Regions from separate parts of the Homo sapiens genome. Here region 1 is linked to region 2. A link means that fine-mapping ties the variant in region 2 to the expression of a gene that starts in the linked region. Tissue or cell type: whole blood. Region 2 holds a variant in brackets; the other region holds the start of a gene. All regions are shown on one strand. Distances are between the middles of the regions.

Evidence for each region. PIP is the estimated chance that this variant, and not a neighbour inherited with it, causes the effect.
Region 1: it holds the start of BCL2L11, and the variant in region 2 is fine-mapped to the expression of BCL2L11 in whole blood (TOPMed, PIP above 0.99).

The regions. Positions count from the first base shown.
Region 1 is chr2:111,117,475-111,125,568 of GRCh38, forward strand. It overlaps BCL2L11 (BCL2 like 11), which reads left to right and starts at 3,440. Exons shown (of 4, transcript NM_138621.5): 1 at 3,440-3,714; 2 at 6,259-6,665. The coding sequence starts at 6,272. It overlaps ACOXL (acyl-CoA oxidase like), which reads left to right. Exons shown (of 18, transcript NM_001142807.4): 18 at 142-1,074. The coding sequence ends at 342. RefSeq lists enhancers at 2,645-2,724, 3,875-3,994 and silencers at 3,005-3,544, 3,878-4,172, 4,965-5,524.
Region 2 is chr2:111,409,175-111,417,276 of GRCh38, forward strand. The region is part of intron 1 of MIR4435-2HG (MIR4435-2 host gene); the gene reads right to left. Among named protein-coding and RNA genes, the nearest start is that of SOCAR, 78 kb to the right of the region's middle. The variant G/A (reference allele first, on the strand shown) is at 4,387.

The DNA.
Region 1 (8,094 bases), 290 kb before region 2:
AGTTTCCACAGGAGAATCCAAAGGGAAACTAGTTTCCGGGGCCGCTGTGTGTGCGGGTGCTTGGTGGGCTGAAAGCTGCTGTCACTAGATGGCTGTAAGTGTGCCAACATCTGACCTGTCCCATTGTGTTGTGTTTTGCAGTTGCTGGATTTGTGCGACTCGGTGAAGGATGATGCCCGGAGGGTGATCTCGACCTTTAACATTCCACACACCTACCTCCACGCACCAATCGCCGGAATCTCCAACCCGCGGGCCGCGTGGGCTTTCTACCCTGCACCGCTGCAGCCGCGGCCACGGGAAGAGGCGCGCTCCCGGCGGCCCAAGCTGGGAGCCAAGCTCTAACGGGTGTGGCGGGAAGTGTGGTGGCCCGCCAGCAGCTGCCACGACGCTCGCTCCACCGACGCCCAGAGCTGTGGCCGAGGCCGGGGGCTGGCACCCGCTGGGCCGCCACTCTCGGGGATTTTGGTGGCAAAGCGGAGGTCCCGCCGAGGCTGGCGAGGTGCGCGGCTGGCTGCTAGGAAAGAGATCCAGACGGTCGCCTGGTGCGCTGGATCCCTGTGCCCTTTCCCTGAAACCCAGCCTGGCCTGACTGCAACCTCTCCCAACTTCAGTGCCGGATCCCCTAGACAATCAGGGTGGGCTCCCCGCTGCGAGCGCGCCCCACAGCCGGGTGCCGCCAAAGGTCTCCTGCTGTTAGCGGTGACTCACATTCCCAGTGATTTAGAAAAACTGTGGTGCCGAGTGAAAGAAAAAAAAAAAAGCAAACACCCTTAGACAAAAGAAAAAAGCTCCACTCTTTCCGCGAGCGGGAAAAAAGGTTTGGTTCAGCAAGTGATGCTATTTCAGTGAATCAGACGCTCTGGGGCTCTGCAAGGAAACGCACGGACTGGGAGAAGGAAGTGGGAGCCTAGAGTTTTGCTCTCGGCAAAACAAGAACTCGGCTTGTCCTCCCAGGCCGGCGGTTTCCGTACGGCAAGACAAGGCGCGGAAAACATTTTTACCATCTGACGCTGTAGTCTGTCCTTTAGAAGAGAATAGGTGAAAAGTTTAATAAAGAAATTAAGCGATGTGGAAGTCGTTCCCGCTGCTTGCAGAGGGTGGGGAGGCGGGCCTGGGCAATTTCGGAACTAGGAGAGACCACGTCGGCAAAGCCTGTGGTCCCGAACAAGGGCCATGGATTTCCCATTTCTCAGATCCCGGCTGCCCGACTTCATTCTTGTTTCTTTCAGCACAAGCCATCCTCCCTTCTCCCTCCCTCCACGTCTCTTGGCAGAGACAGAAAGGGACACCGCTCTGCCCGCGTCCAGCGCGAAGGAGGTGACCTAAAACCCATGGGCCCTTCTCACACTGCGTTCTCTGCGCTCCGGCCCAGTTCCGGGAGGACCTCCCGACGGCGCGGGAGAAGGCTGTAAGGGCTCTTGGCCCCCGACGCGGCCTGGGTCTCGGGGGACGCATGAACCCGCCACCTCTGGCCGGCTTCCTTTTAGTGCCCCAAATAGCAGCGCTTAGCCCGTTGCTTCCCCCGACTCTTGTTTTTCAAAGTGTTCACAGGGTCGCGAGAGCGAGCGACGCGGGGGCGGCGAGGCTGCAAGGCTGCACAGGAACAGACGACAAGAAATAGGGCTTTCTTCTGCGTGGTTCTTTTCCGGTCCCTGTCTGAGTCGCCCGACCCCGCGGGGAGCGCGGAGCATTGCGGCGTGCGGCGGGCTTCGGGCTCTCAGCCCGCGCAGCAAGTTGTGTTGCTTTTCCCCGGGTGCGACGCGGGACGGCCGCGAAGAGCAAAGTTCGTCCGCGGTAGGAACTTCGAGGCCCGGTTAGGACCGATCTCCGGCCTCCGAGTCTACTTAGCCGTGTCCACGCTCGTGCCTTTTCCCTCTTGCAGCGAAATAACTGGGCGGGGCCCGACGCGCGTCCTCCAGCGACTCCGGGAACCCAAGGCCTCCTTCACCTCGCTCAAAATTCACCCGAAAATGCGCTGAGACTTTGGCATGGGGCTGCGCTGTGTCCCACTGACGTTACAGAAGCGCTTATGAATTTAAAAACTGCTCCAGGCGGCCGGACGGCGGGACAACGCCTCCTCACTTGCTCCTCTACGGCAAGGCCCCTTCCTTCTCCCTGCCGGCTGCGGTGGTGTGTAGGGTGGTCCCTTTACAGAGTTTCCTTAATCCATCTAGCCTGACCTCACCTGCGGGATGTTCCATTTCCCGATCCACCTCCCACACCCCCGCTGCAGTTGTCTAGAAGCTGGGGCTGGGGAACTGAGGCGCGGGAGGAGCAGACAGGAGGGCCGGGGTTGGGGCGCCAGCCACGCGTTGGGAGAGCAGACCCGGGTGCAGACTCAGAGGACTGGAGAGGCGGCATGGAGTTTGGTCTCCTGGGAGGTAGAGTGAGGTGCTGCGGACTCCAGGGAGGAAAGGGATGGGTGGGGAGGCGGGAGGGGAGGAGGGACGGGGTATTTTGCGCTCCCGCACCGCGGCCCGAACTCAGCTGTTCTGCCTTCACTGGCCTCAGCCAGTCGAGGGAGCTCCTACGAGGTTATCTGCGAGCCCAGCAAATCTTGGGGGTCCTAGCCAAATGCAGTGCGCAACGTTCTCTCTCACTTGGAGGCCGCCATTCACCTCGTTTTTTTTTTTCCTAAAAGGATTTTTTTTTCTGAGTGCTTTTTTCATTTCCCTATTTTACCTGCTTTGCACATGCCTCCCGCCCTCACCCGGGAGGCGGCGAAGACGCCCACTGGGACCGCGCCTGGCCGTTTTCTGGGCGCGTCCTGCCCCCACGGCCTCTGTCTCTTAGGGCGACTGGGCGCGGAAGAAAAGCTGGAGAGCCCCTGCGGGGTGGCAGGAGGAGGGTGCCTGAGTCCCGCGAGAGGCCCGGGCGAGGAAGATGCGCAGCCTGCTGATCCGCGTCCCGCCCGGCGCCAGGGACCCTCAGAGGGAGGAGAGCTCAAAGACCTCGCCCCGCGCCTTCGCGAGGACCAACCCAGTCCCCGCGCCTGCCCCAGAGCGGCTTAGAAACTCAGGGCACAGTGAGAGCGCAGGGCGCCTCCCGAGGCTTCACACCGCCGGCCGGGCCAGCGGAGGCTGTGACCGGAGCGCCCCCTCTGTGCCGCGCACGCCGCGGCCGCCGCCGGGTTGGGGTAGGTGAGCGGGAGGCTAGGGTACACTTCGGGGTGGGGGATGGGCGCGCACATGGCCGCCAGCAGGCAGAGTTACTCCGGTAAACACGCCAGGGACGGCGGCGCGCGCGGGAGGCAACCCAGCGGGGCAACCCCCGCCTTTACCTGTCCGAGCCTGCACGCGCCGGCGGCCGCGGCGCCGAGGGGGGCGGAGCTTGCCAGCCCGCGCGCCGGGGCGGGACCTAGCGGGGGCGGGGTCCGCAGTGATTGGGCGTAGGAGCGGGGCCGCCAGCCAGAGCTGGGCTGCAGGGCCGCGCAGGTTTCACTTCGCTCCGCGCAGCCGCCTGGTCTGCAGTTTGTTGGAGCTCTGCGTCCAGCGCCGCTGCCGCTGCCGCCGCCGCCGCCGCCGCCGCCGCCGCCGCCGCCGCCGCCACTACCACCACTTGATTCTTGCAGCCACCCTGCGAACCCTGCCACACTGCGATCGCATCATCGCGGTATTCGGTTCGCTGCGTTCCCGCCGCCACCGCCTCGGCGCCCTTTCTTGGCCCTTGTTCCCCCAAATGTCTGACTCTGACTCTCGGACTGAGAAACGCAAGGTAAATACCTCCAAATCCCGGGGCGCGGGCCTGGCACCGAAGGAAGACTAGCGCTGGAGCCCGAACGGCACCACCTACTGCCCGCTTCCCGTGCACGTGCGAGCGGAGACGCTTGCATCGGCGCCGCTTGTCGCCGGCGGGAGGTGGGGATCCGTGTGGATCGGGTTCCCTCTCGGGCAGGTTCTCTTTAAAGAAAAGTCGTTCACGCGGAACCTGCAGGCTCTTGGCCGAAGTGCGGCTTGGGACGGGATGCTGCGCGCGGGCCTGGTGAAGGGTCGTAGGTCCGGGCAGGAGGAGAGGCAGCGCGTGCCTTTCGGCGCCGGCCCGGGAGCTGAGGACCTGCTCGTAGTATCGGGCTGTGCGCCCAGCTGGAAAGTCTCGCCGCCGGCTCCGGCGCCCTCAGAGTAGCGGCCGCGCAGTGTGAGGGTGTTTCGTGTCTTGGTTTTTTGGGGCGCGTGGGCCTGTTGCGGAGGATTTGCGGAACTGCGGTGGTGATTTAACTGACGAGACACGGCTTTTCCTTTTACTCATTCAGGCCAAGGTTTCGGGGCCACTGCTGCGTTCGCTTTCTCAAGCGTACCTGGGGCCCCTGCTTGCTCTGCAGGAGTCCTGCGGCCTGTGCCATCCGCACGATTCCCTGGCAGCGAGAAATCTAGGTCCTCCCCTGACCACCTGGACCGCGCAGGGGACTAGTCGCGGCCGGCAGAACCTGCTCGGTCCCTGGGCCGGGCTATCTTAGCGGCTCACGCATGCCCGAGCACACCCGACCCGGTTCGCGGTGCAGGCTGGCGGCGCCGTGCCCTCTGGGACCTGTTGCCCCAGGGTTGGCGCTGCTGGTGGAGGGCCCGACGGACGCCAGGGCGGAGGGTGTGAATTTACTCGATGGTCGCGGACGTGCGCGTCCGCGGCCAGGGGTGGCTCTTCGGCTTTGACTCGTGTCTGCGGCGCACCAGGAGAGAGAGGAAGTTGTTGGAGGAGAATAGTTGCCACAGCCAGGGCGGTGACGGCCGTTAGGGTCTGCCCCCGACGGGCCAAAACAAGGACAAGTGGCGAGGACTGGGCCTGGGGATGGCCCTGCGGGTCCGGGCGCGGCGCAAGTCCTGCTTTGTCTCCAGGTGACTGGCTGTCCAGGACGGCGGGAGCTGCTAAGGCTTGTGTCCGGAAGGAGCACAGGGATGGGCAGGGTGGCCGGGCCAGCCGGCCCTCAAATCCTCCGACGAAGCGGCAGCCGCCACGACCACGGCCAGAGCAGCGCTCGGAGGCGAGTTTGTCAACAATCGCCTCGCCTTTGGCGGCCTGACCCGTAGGCGCCGCCCCCACCGCGGCTGCCGATTGGCTGCGGCGCGGAGCGACCGCGCGCGGACCAATTGGGAACGCGGGCACCCGGCGCCAGCGGCGCGGGGAGGTCGGCGGTGCCGGCGGCGGCGGGCGCAGAGCGCGAGGGGAGGAGCGGGAGGAGGCGGAGGATGTTCCCGGCGGCTGCGGCCGGGGCAGCGCGGGCCAGAGGCGCGGCGTGCGGAGCCCTCGGCTGCCCGGCGGAGCGCGGCGGCGGGCTGGCGGGAAGGCGCGGGCTTTGCGCTGCGCCGGGGACTCTGAACCCGAGTCCCGGGCTTTGTCTCCTGCGCTGCTTTCGTGGTGACGGTCAGGGGGCGCCCGGTCGGCGAAGGGCGCGGGCCGGACGCCGCGGGGCTTGGTCCCTGGCCCGGACGCTGCGCTCTGAAGGGAAGGCGCGGACGTGAGTTTCGGTGTGATTGCCTTCTGAGGGGAGGGTCTGTGGGATGAAGGCGGCGCGGCGCGCACCGGTGTCGCCTAGCCTGCGGACCTAGTTGTAGACCTTGCAGGCGTTCGCTTCGTCGCCCTCCGCCGCCCCCTCCCCATTTAGAGATGTGCACCTCACGGTGTGCACCTCAGAGAAGTTCTGTCTGATTCGGTGCGGCGTGCGGTACGGGAGCGGGAGGGAGGGAGCACGGGCGGAGAGAGCGCCAGAGCCGGGCCGAGCCGCGCTGGAGTTACAAACTCTATTGTGACGCACTTACTACGACTGACGGCCGCTGCCAGACCTTCCCCAGACTTGCTGCCCTCAGCATTTTCGGCAAACAATGGGGCCGGAGCAGGGAACGCGGCCAGCCGCCTGCAATCGCTGCATCTGCGCCCGCTCCTGTGCTCCGGCGTCCTACCTAACCCCGGGAAGTCAGAGCCGCTGGGAGTTTCTGACTTACTCGAAGAAGTCTGTCCTGGGCAAAGAGCACACACGAATAGACTTCAGATTAGCTGCTTCTCTGGAAACGCATGTGTGTGTGCACCAGTTCCGCAAGCTGTTGACATTGTTACTGTATTTTGTTTGGGGGTACCCTCTACCAAAAAAAAATTACACCTTTATTATTTTAGGTGCAATTTTTTTATTTGGGAGATTGTCAGAAAAGTATAGAACAAAGTATTTGGGATTAACCCTAAGAATTTTTAATCGCTAGGTGAGAGCTAATTTGTTTATTCATCGATTTTTTTTTTTGCTTAAAATAATCTTAGTTTTTATTTTACTTGCAGAAAAAAAGACCAAATGGCAAAGCAACCTTCTGATGTAAGTTCTGAGTGTGACCGAGAAGGTAGACAATTGCAGCCTGCGGAGAGGCCTCCCCAGCTCAGACCTGGGGCCCCTACCTCCCTACAGACAGAGCCACAAGGTAATCCTGAAGGCAATCACGGAGGTGAAGGGGACAGCTGCCCCCACGGCAGCCCTCAGGGCCCGCTGGCCCCACCTGCCAGCCCTGGCCCTTTTGCTACCAGATCCCCGCTTTTCATCTTTATGAGAAGATCCTCCCTGCTGTCTCGATCCTCCAGTGGGTATTTCTCTTTTGACACAGACAGGAGCCCAGCACCCATGAGTTGTGACAAATCAACACAAACCCCAAGTCCTCCTTGCCAGGCCTTCAACCACTATCTCAGTGCAATGGGTAAGCAATGCCTGGGTAAGAGGCAGTTGACGTGTGGATGGTTGAATCTGCTTGAAGGCTGTGTGTGGCATTTAAAATCCCCTTTTAAAACCCCGTAACTGATTTATTCCATCTTTAGATGGGAATGGAGGATGTGTCAAACTATCAAACCAACTTTTTTTTTTTTTTTTGAGATGAGTCTTGCTCTGTCGCCCAGGCTGGAGTGCAGTGGTGCAATCTCAGCTCACCGCAAGCTCCACCTCCCGGGTTCAAGCAATTCTCCTACCTCAGCCTCCAGAGTAGCTGGGACTACAGGCGCGTGCCACCACGCCCAGCTAATTTTTTCTATTTTTGGTAGAGATGGGGTTTCACCGTGTTAGCCAGGATGGTCTCAATCTCCTGACCTTGTAATCTGCCTGTCTCAGCCTCCCAAAGTGCTGGGATTACAGGCGTGAGCCACCGCGCATGGCCCACATCAACATTTTTACAAAGTTACTAACTTTTGTGGCAGTGATGAGTTGAGGTCCAAACATTAGCTTTCAGGTCTGTCTTCATTAAGCTAAAGTGTGTTTTAACCACCAGGCTTTACATAGTAATGACATTTTGCTTGAAAGGGAACTGATCATTTACAGAAAATAGCTTAATAATCAAAAGTGTAAAGAAAGATGACAATCATTTTTGAAAATAACACTTTTAAAAAAATGAACTAGTTCATGAAAGCAGTACCAACATAGAACCATGAAAATGGTTTGTTTTCTGCCTAAATTCCTCTTTGTGCTTATTGCTCAGAGGGTTTGGACATAGTACTAATCAGATTAGGTTGTAGGTTTTTATTTCAGGGATTAAAGGCAGTAGTAGGGTTTGAACCAAGAGTGGCTAACATAAATACCACAGAGGCCCACAGCAAAATCATGGAAGGAACTGACCTGGTGGAGACTGGTAAATTGGAGAGTATTTGCCCCTTCTATGTTTGGGCCACACCTAATTGTGGCTGTGAGGGCATGTGGTCTCAGGGTGGGTTTTCCTATATTGCAAGATAACCTAGGAATGCAAAATTGATGCCAGATACCCTGTTTCAACATTGACAGCTGATTCAGATTTTGAAAACATTGTACAAGCTGAAAAGAAACATCTGCAGACTTGATTTGGCCCTTGAACCTACAGCATGTGACTTTGGGTACATACTTTGGGTAACCTTGGTGAGGGGCTGAGTCTGTGTTGATCGACTTGCTGTTCCCCACCAATGGAAAAGGTTCATGTCTTGATCAGTAGTCAATCACATTGACCATTTGTCCAGATTAGCTTGCCATACATGAACAAGATAGAAGTAAGTTGGTAGAGTTATCAATTAGGAAACCCAGTACAGAGTCTATTATAATTTAGATTGTACCTCATGATGAAGGCTAACTCAACAAACCCATCAGAACAGACACTGGAACAAAATGACATT
Region 2 (8,102 bases):
CCAAGTCTCAGAGAGCAGCATCCCAGCCACAGACCGTGCTGGCATGTACCAAGAAAGGAGAAGAAGCACTGGTCCTCTTGCTCCTGCGTAGGCTGGCATGTGGATCCACCCCTTCTCAAGGTATCACACAAGTGCAGGGGCCAGAGGAAACCAGGGGCTGCAGAGGTAAGGGTCAATGTGGGGTGGCCCCAAAAACAGCTCTCCTGACAAAGTTTTGTGGCTTTTTTTGTTGCTAGGCTGCTTCAAGTATCACTCAGGGATGTAGAAGACTGTCTCATAGGTCTTAACTATAACTATCTGAGTCTGAATAATGGCTCCCAAAGACATCCACAAATCCCTGGAACCTGAGAATGTTACCTTACACGGCAAAAGGGACTTTGCAGATGTGATTAAGTTGAAGATCTTGAGATAGAGAGGTAGTCCTGGATTATCTGAGTGGGCCCTTAACGTAACCACTGGGGTCCTTATATGAAGGAGGCAAGAAGGTTAAAGAAGGGATAGCCATGTGACGATGGGGCAGACACTGGAGTGATGGACTTTAAGTGGAGGAAGGGTCCACAAGCCAAGGAACGTTGGCCATGTCTAAAAGCCGGAACAGACAAGGAAGCTGATCTCCCCAAAGCCCTGCCGAAACCTTGACTTTAGCCCATTGAAACAGATTTCAGGCTTCTGGCCTTTGGGAACTGTGAGAGAATACATTTGTGTTTTGTGTTAAGCTACCAAGGATGTTAGAGCAGCCATGGGAAAGGGGTGCTGTTTGCATGAGAAAAGCAGGAAGACAGAGAGAGGAACTGTGTCAGCCTCCTGGTCTGTGGGGAGCCACATCCCAGGAACCCCAACCTCTGCCTTTTGCTGGGAAACATTCTCCCAGTCTCCCAGTCTGAAACACCTCCCTCAAATCCCAAAAAGACAATGGTGGGAATCCTCCAAGGTCCAGCAGAGCCTTGGGACAAGATGCAATCTTTCGCTAGCCCCAAGTGGGTGGGTTCACCCACCCTCAGCTCCAGCAGGTAGGCCCTTCTGAATCTCAGGCTGGCTGAATAGGTTCCAGACGCAGGAGGGAGCCCCCCCACCCCCTCTGGCAGCTGGAGTGTGTGCTGGAGATCTGGGCATGGGCTTGCCCAGGCAAAGAGTGGAGAAGCTTTTATAGGAAAGCTGTAAAAGCAAGCAGGGTTGACCTGGGCACTCCCCCAGTTCCCATGAGTCTGGGGCCCACGACTGGCTCATCGATTGCTTGAACAAGCACACATCAGAGACATCCAGATCAGAATGGAAGCTGCTCAAGGCTCAGATGATCCCTGAGCCACCAACGTTATCCTGGAGGTTCTTATCACAGAGTATGGGAAATGCCATACTGGGCTGTGGGTTTGCAGAAATCCTCCAAAAGATGCAGAAACAAGTCCAGCTGAAAATGGAATGCTTCCTGATGGCTCATTTTGTTCCAGCCTCAACCCAAAGGTATCTATCACAATATTTCTTGTACAATGGGTTGTGCAGCGGGGGGAAGGGAGATGCTTTACAGGCATAGTGTGGGGTGAGGTACATTTCGTAACAGCTCTTGTTTACTGAGATGGCTTTCTACTGACAAAGAAAAAAGTCCCGAAAAGAAGGGGGCCTGTTAATTGTTTGCTTCCTTTTGCTTTTTTGGTTACAACAGTAAAAACTGTCCTTCAAATTTAGTCCCAGAAGACATCAGAGTTTGACAATGACAAGTGGGGAATAGAAGTTCCTGGGCTATCAGCTTCGCGGCTCCCTCCTCTACATGTGGGCTCGGGGACACAGAGCTGGTCCCTGCCCAGTCTCGGAGGCCAGAGAATCAAGTTCTGGGTGTGTGAGACTGATGGGACAGGCTTCCTCTGACCGAGTTGGGCAACTTGGGGCTTTTAACTGCCTTGGGAATGAGGGTGGGTGCCTTAAATGAGGAACTAAGACAGGCCCTCATTTCCCAGCAGGGATGCCGCTCAGCCTGCAGAGTTCCCCGTTCCCAAGGCTTGTGAAGCAGGAGACAAAAGAGGGGCCTTCCTCAGGACACTGTTGTGGGGTGGGGTGCTCACTCGCTCTCCTGTGCCCATGTACTCCTCTCCCCCTCTACTTCCCTCTCTTTGGGAATCCCTATGGGGCAAGTACAGGGAGATGGGAAGAAGTGGGTGGGATGGATCTGGGCTAATGACGAGGGCAGCCTCTTCCCCCCTCGGGTCTCCCTCCACCCTCTTCAGTCCCTAGTACCTGCTGGGACCTGCCTCCTTAATAGGTAACCCCTACAGCTCTCCTCGGCCAGTCTCTGCACACTGCGCCCATGGGTTCCCGATGCCACTGCCCTCAGAACATGCAGTCAGAGGCTCTGGGGAGCTAGAGGTTCAGGTGGGTGTAGAGAACACCACACATATCCTCCCAGGGCAGCCAGGACATCCCACGGGGAGGCAAAGAGGGTCCTGTCCTGGGCTTCCTCCACACTCAGACCACTTCCTCACCTGCCCACCAAGCAGCAGTGTGCATGGTTAATGGAAATTGGCATCTCTTCTATCCATGTGAGGAACCACCAAGACCTACTAGCTAGGTTTACGATCCAGGTTCTAGATACCAGGGGTTAGGAGGGAAGGACCCCCAAGACCTACTAGCTAGGTCTACAATCCAGGTTGTAGATACTATGAGTTAGGAGGGAAGGCCCAGGAGTGCCATTCCCCAGGTTCAAATTCCAGCTCCAAGACTCACCCTGTGTGTGCCCTGGCATAACTCAAGGTGCCCTCAGCTTCCCCATCCTTAAATGGCAAGGTTTCGTACTTGCCTTTAGAGCTGCTTGTGGGGATTAAATGATACCTAGTTGCCAAGGGCTTTGCACCGGCCCTAGTATGCGGTAGTGCCAGTTACAGAGGAGGAAACAGAGGCTCAGGGAGATTGAGCACCTCGACTAAAGAGAGGAGTGGAATTTCAGTCCAGGAGGTCAGGCTGTCTTTCCGAGAGCCGACACCCACCAGCCTTTGGTGGGCTTGAGAACACGTGGGGCCTGCCATCCACGCTGCTGGCATGCATCAGGTGGTGTCAGGTGGGTCCTCGCACAGTGAATCCTGAGCAGAGGGCAGGGGGACGAGGGGGCGGCTGGAGCCCAGTTCGCTTTTGCGAAGCACTTCCTGAACTGCACATTCGGTTACCACAAAATGAGTCAAGGTCCCTTTTAAGTGGCTTGCTGAGCTTCCCTCTGATCTGGCACTGTCTCCCTGGGATGGCCGGCAGCAGGCTTCCCTGACGAGCTGTCAGGCCTGGCACCGGAGCCCCTTCCCTGGGCACCAGCTCTGCACGAGCACCCCTTCACTCTTCCTCATGACAATTCCATGAGGCAGGGGCTGGTCTTGTTTCCACTTTAAGTGGGGAAACTGAGGCTCAGAGAGGTTGGGTGAGTTGCCTTGGGTCACACAGCTTAGTCAGGTTCAGAGCTGCAACCTGAACTCTGGCCTGTCTGGTTCTTAGCTGTTTTGCTTGCTCTTCTGCCTGGCTCATGGCAGTGAGGAGACCCACGCTCACCTTCGCTGCCTGGGTCAAGTAGCTGCCTGGGACCTCTCTATGGACCCATTTGCAAATCAAGGATGGGGAAGTGAGGTTGTGGGGATGAACCATTAGAAGCAACTTCTCATGTCCCAGAAGGAAACAGGGGACTGTGCTTTCCAGGATGAAAATACAAGGGCCCCCTGATGGACTAGTGTCCTCCCTATGGATTGAGTCCCTCTAAGAAATGGGTTGCTCTCCCCACAAACAGGCTTAGCTTAAAGACCTTGTGTTTCCTGGGCAAGAGAGGCACCCACAAAAGGCCTTCACTAAAACCTGGCTTCAGGCCCAGGGCCCTGGTCCGGATGCAGAGGAGGCCTCAGCTGGGAAGGGTCCGTCCTCCTGGGGCTTGGGGGGTGGGGGTCATGCTCTCCTGGAAATGGGCTGCCCCAAGACCCACATGAGTCTTACCCCAGTGTCTCCTTTAGAGTCCTGGAGCAAGAAGGAGGGATTCCCAGTGATATCTGGTGAGTAAGAGAGAAAAGGAAGCGGGTACATCCAGAAACACAAGCACAGTCTGTGAACACCGTCAGACAAGAGGGCCTGAATGGCGCCTGTGGTGATTGGGTCTTTTTGTTTGCTTTTGTTTTTGTCATTGTTGTTTTGAGTCAGTTTAGGAGTTTTTTTTAGTAATGACTACTGGGAAACTCAGAGGGAAACACATACACACACACACACACACACACACACAAACACATGAAAGAACAACAATGCGGGGTGATGACCACGGCTCAACCAAACGACATTTTCATCATCCTGACACATCTTGTTGAAACGGAAACAGATCTGGGCCTAAGGTCCTCACATCATTTTTCCTGATTCTCTTTGTCTGTTTTTAAAAGTAAC[G/A]TTCAATTAGAGAAATAACGCATAGCCCTCCTTGTAAAATACTACAACGTGATAAATAAGGCTCAAGAACTCCTTGGCTGCTGTCTGGACCGAGGGTCCCTCCCCAAGCCAGCCACTGTGCTCTATTTTCTGTGGGTCTTTGCAGTCTGGGTCGAACTTTTTAAGCATTTCATTGCTACTACTTAGCTTTTGAGAGTGGGTTCAGCGCTCGTGACTGAAGCATATGCTTAGAGAACAGTGTCCCTGAAGTCAAATCTCAAACTTTGCCTCAATGCCTCTTGCCTCAGAAGGGCCCAGAAAGGTCTGAATTGCCCTGAGAGTTTTCCTCCAGACAATAGCTCAGCCTTCTGTGCCCAGCCATGTTTGCAAAACTTTCTCACACACCCCTCAGCTAGTCCTTCACAGTCTAAGCCTAGGCTGCTGGGATACACATTTCTATTTTGCAGATAATGAACAGAAGTCTCCACAGAGTTAAGAGTCTTATACAAAACTACCTACCCTGGCTGGTTTTTCCACTATAGCAGGGACTCCTTTCCTCCAAGTCCCGCCTCCACACCGAGGTCTCAGGTGGCGAGGGCCTTCCAGGCATGAATGTCCCACACCCGTGCTCCTGTCAGAGTCCTCACACTCCCTGACCAAGCTGCCTAAGTTCCAGGAAGCTCTAGGCCTGTGTTCTCCCAGGGAGGGGGGCTTCCCATCTAGTCCCTCAAACCAGGAGCCCGGGGGTATTTGTGAGGTTCTGGGAGACTCTAGGAGACCATAAATACCAGACCTTTAAGCAAGCATGGTCAGCAGCTGGTGATAAAATTGAAGGAAAGAGACACAGCAGCCTGCATTTCAACCCTGCCCTCTCCACACCCTCCAAACTGAGTACCTGGGGTTGCAGGGAGGCAGGGCCACCAAAGTCCCCAGTGGGACCGCAGTGTGGCTCTGAGGACGGAGCTGGATATTGTAAGGTTGGCAGCAACTCAGGCCAGTACTCTCAAGTGGGAACAGTTGGGAAAACAGGTAGAAAGAAAAGACAGCATGAGAATCTCTAGGACGGGAGCCAGCGCAGTCTTCCCAAAGAATATCGTGCAGACATGCTCTGCACACAAACCTTCCCTTCCTAGAGATCCAGAATATCTAGGAAGATTCATGTTCATCAGCATTATGAAAGCCCTGAGAAGTCCTGCAGTCATGGAATAATATAATAATAACGATAATAATAGCCCAAGGTTTTCTAAACTTACTAGTCCAGAGAACTCTTTTCTAGCGAAATGCCTATTGCTGTCTCCCCATGGAGCACATGTTGTGACTGCTGGCCTGGCCCATCTGGGGTAAGGAGCGATGTTGGTCACAGTGCTTCTTAAGCAGCTGTGAACTTCCACAGCCTCACTGCAATGGCCCTGGCCCCCAATCTTACTTCTGATAGGTTAGACAGATGCAATGTCTAAAACCCTCAATTACTGATAACACTTTTAGTGATGACTTAGATCTCAAACTATGGGGTCTCAAACTATGGCCCGTAGGCCAAATCTGGCCCTCTGCCTGTTTTTAAAAATAAAGTTGTATTAAAACACACCTTGGGCCATTCCTCTATGTATTACCGGTGGCTGCTTCATGCTACAATGGCAGAGTTGAGCCGTTGTGATAGAGACCATGCAGCCCAGCAAAGCCTAAAATGTTTACTCTCTGGCCTTTAGAAAAAATGTTTGCTGAACCCTGGCTTAAACAGAAAATCAAAACTCACCTGAAGGACTGGTTCTGTAAAGTCTCAATAGCATGGGAAATTTAGATTTAAAATCTCTGCAATTTGGACCAATCCACGTTCTGCCGTGGTTGTGTTGTTGATGTAACGGGCCCAGACTACAGCTCAAGTGTAGACAAGGGTGTGTGTGTGTGTGTGTGTGTGTGTGTGTGTGTGTGTTCATGGAGAGACTGGGAATAGGAACAGGATGGGGAGGAAAGAGAAATGCTTTATGGCTTAGGAATATTGAATTCGGAGCCAGAGCAGGGGAAGTTGTGCCACCCTATAAGCCTCAGCTTTGGTTGTATGAGAAACCTGGAGATAATGTAGCTGATGGCACAGGGTTGTTGTGGGCAGAAAATGAGCTCCTGTGAGCAGAGCACCTCTGCTGTCTCTAGGAGACTCAGCAAGTCCTGGGGACTCCTCCGCATTTCTTCTTCAGTGCCCAGGGTGCATTAAGTGCTCAACAAACGGGCTCCTATTCGGGAATTACTCAAGCGACACACAATCTTATTTGGGGAACAGACAATATCTGGGCAAGATAAAACTTCCCTCTTTCCTTTCAAGGTTGGACATTACGTGCTAATTTGGGTCATCTCCTGAGTGTGACCTTCAGCCAGCCATTGGTCACCTTACGTGCAAGTAGGGCATGAGTGGCATTCCATGTATAAACCACGTGACAGCTCGGAAAGCAGACGGTCCTGTAAGTGTAACCCACAGACTGAAAATGACCCATGGCAAAGGGCAATGCGTGCATGATTTTTATGCTGGAATTCATGATGGAACATTCTGGATTCCTCCCAGCAAACCTGAGCTGGCCTGCTCTGTTGGGCAGCGAGGTCTGCTCAGAGAGACGCTGGTGTTTATCTGCCACATCCTTTAGTTTTTATTGCACTCAGTCGCCTTGTATATTTAATGAGGAAATTTGCTGAAATGGTTACTAAGCCACAGGGGGAAAAAAAGGAAGGAGGTGGGGAGCCACTCTCCGACCCTGAAGTTGGCAAAGTTGCCTCATTAATCAGACCTGTGCTGGGATACGACGTTATTCATGTTTAGGGCATTAAAACTTGAAGCTAAAATTGTAGCAGGCGGTAATTTGAGTACAGGCAGCCTGTCTCTCTGCGATAGATTTATGATGTTTACTCAACAATGGATGGGAACTTTCAGGGAAAGACTGACCGCCCCCAACCCCCGCCTTTTCAAAACACATTGTCAGGCCACAGTGATCAAGTTCCCGATTTTTGTGTGAGTATGCAGAGCCTTTTTAAAAGTCTTCAGGGTGATAAGAGCAGACTGTATTCGATCTTCTCCATTCTGAGCTCAGCGGAAGTAGGAAAATATGCAAGGCAGATGGAATGAGCTGTCTACCAGGCGAATGGTGGTTGCCATGCTCTCTGACTACACTGCTCTTCCTGAAGTGACCGGTGCAGTGCCACCCCCACCGGCCTTGATGTTGAATCTGGAACATCTGGTCACTGTGTCACCTCATCAGGACCTCAAAGAATTCCCGACAAAAGCTTTCATGTTCCCGGCTGAGGGTCTTGCTTTCCTGTGCTTCAAGGTTACAATTCTTGGAACTGATTGCTGGGAATTTCAGGAAAGTGAGGGTTCCCATTTTCCAAGTTTTCCCACCTCCTTTCTGTCATGACACACAGACAGACGGAGGCCACATCCATCTCTGTCAGTCCAGGCAGACTTTGCCTTCAGGTCTCACATAGCAAAGGAAGAGGCATCAGCCTAGCCTTGGGTCTTGCCACTCAGATGGGAAGCCCTTTCTGTAAGAGGATTCCTTTAAGATGTGGCACAAAGAACATTTATACTGCACTTGGACAGGAAGGCCCCCAAGTGCATGAAAGCACTTTACAGTGTTCATCTCCTCTCCCTGGCACAGGTGTAGCAGAGGTGAGACCCAGTTCTGGTCACTCTGGCTGTTAGCTTTGCTTTTAGCTTTGCCCTGGGCCTGGTGTGTTGGTGATGAATTGCAGAT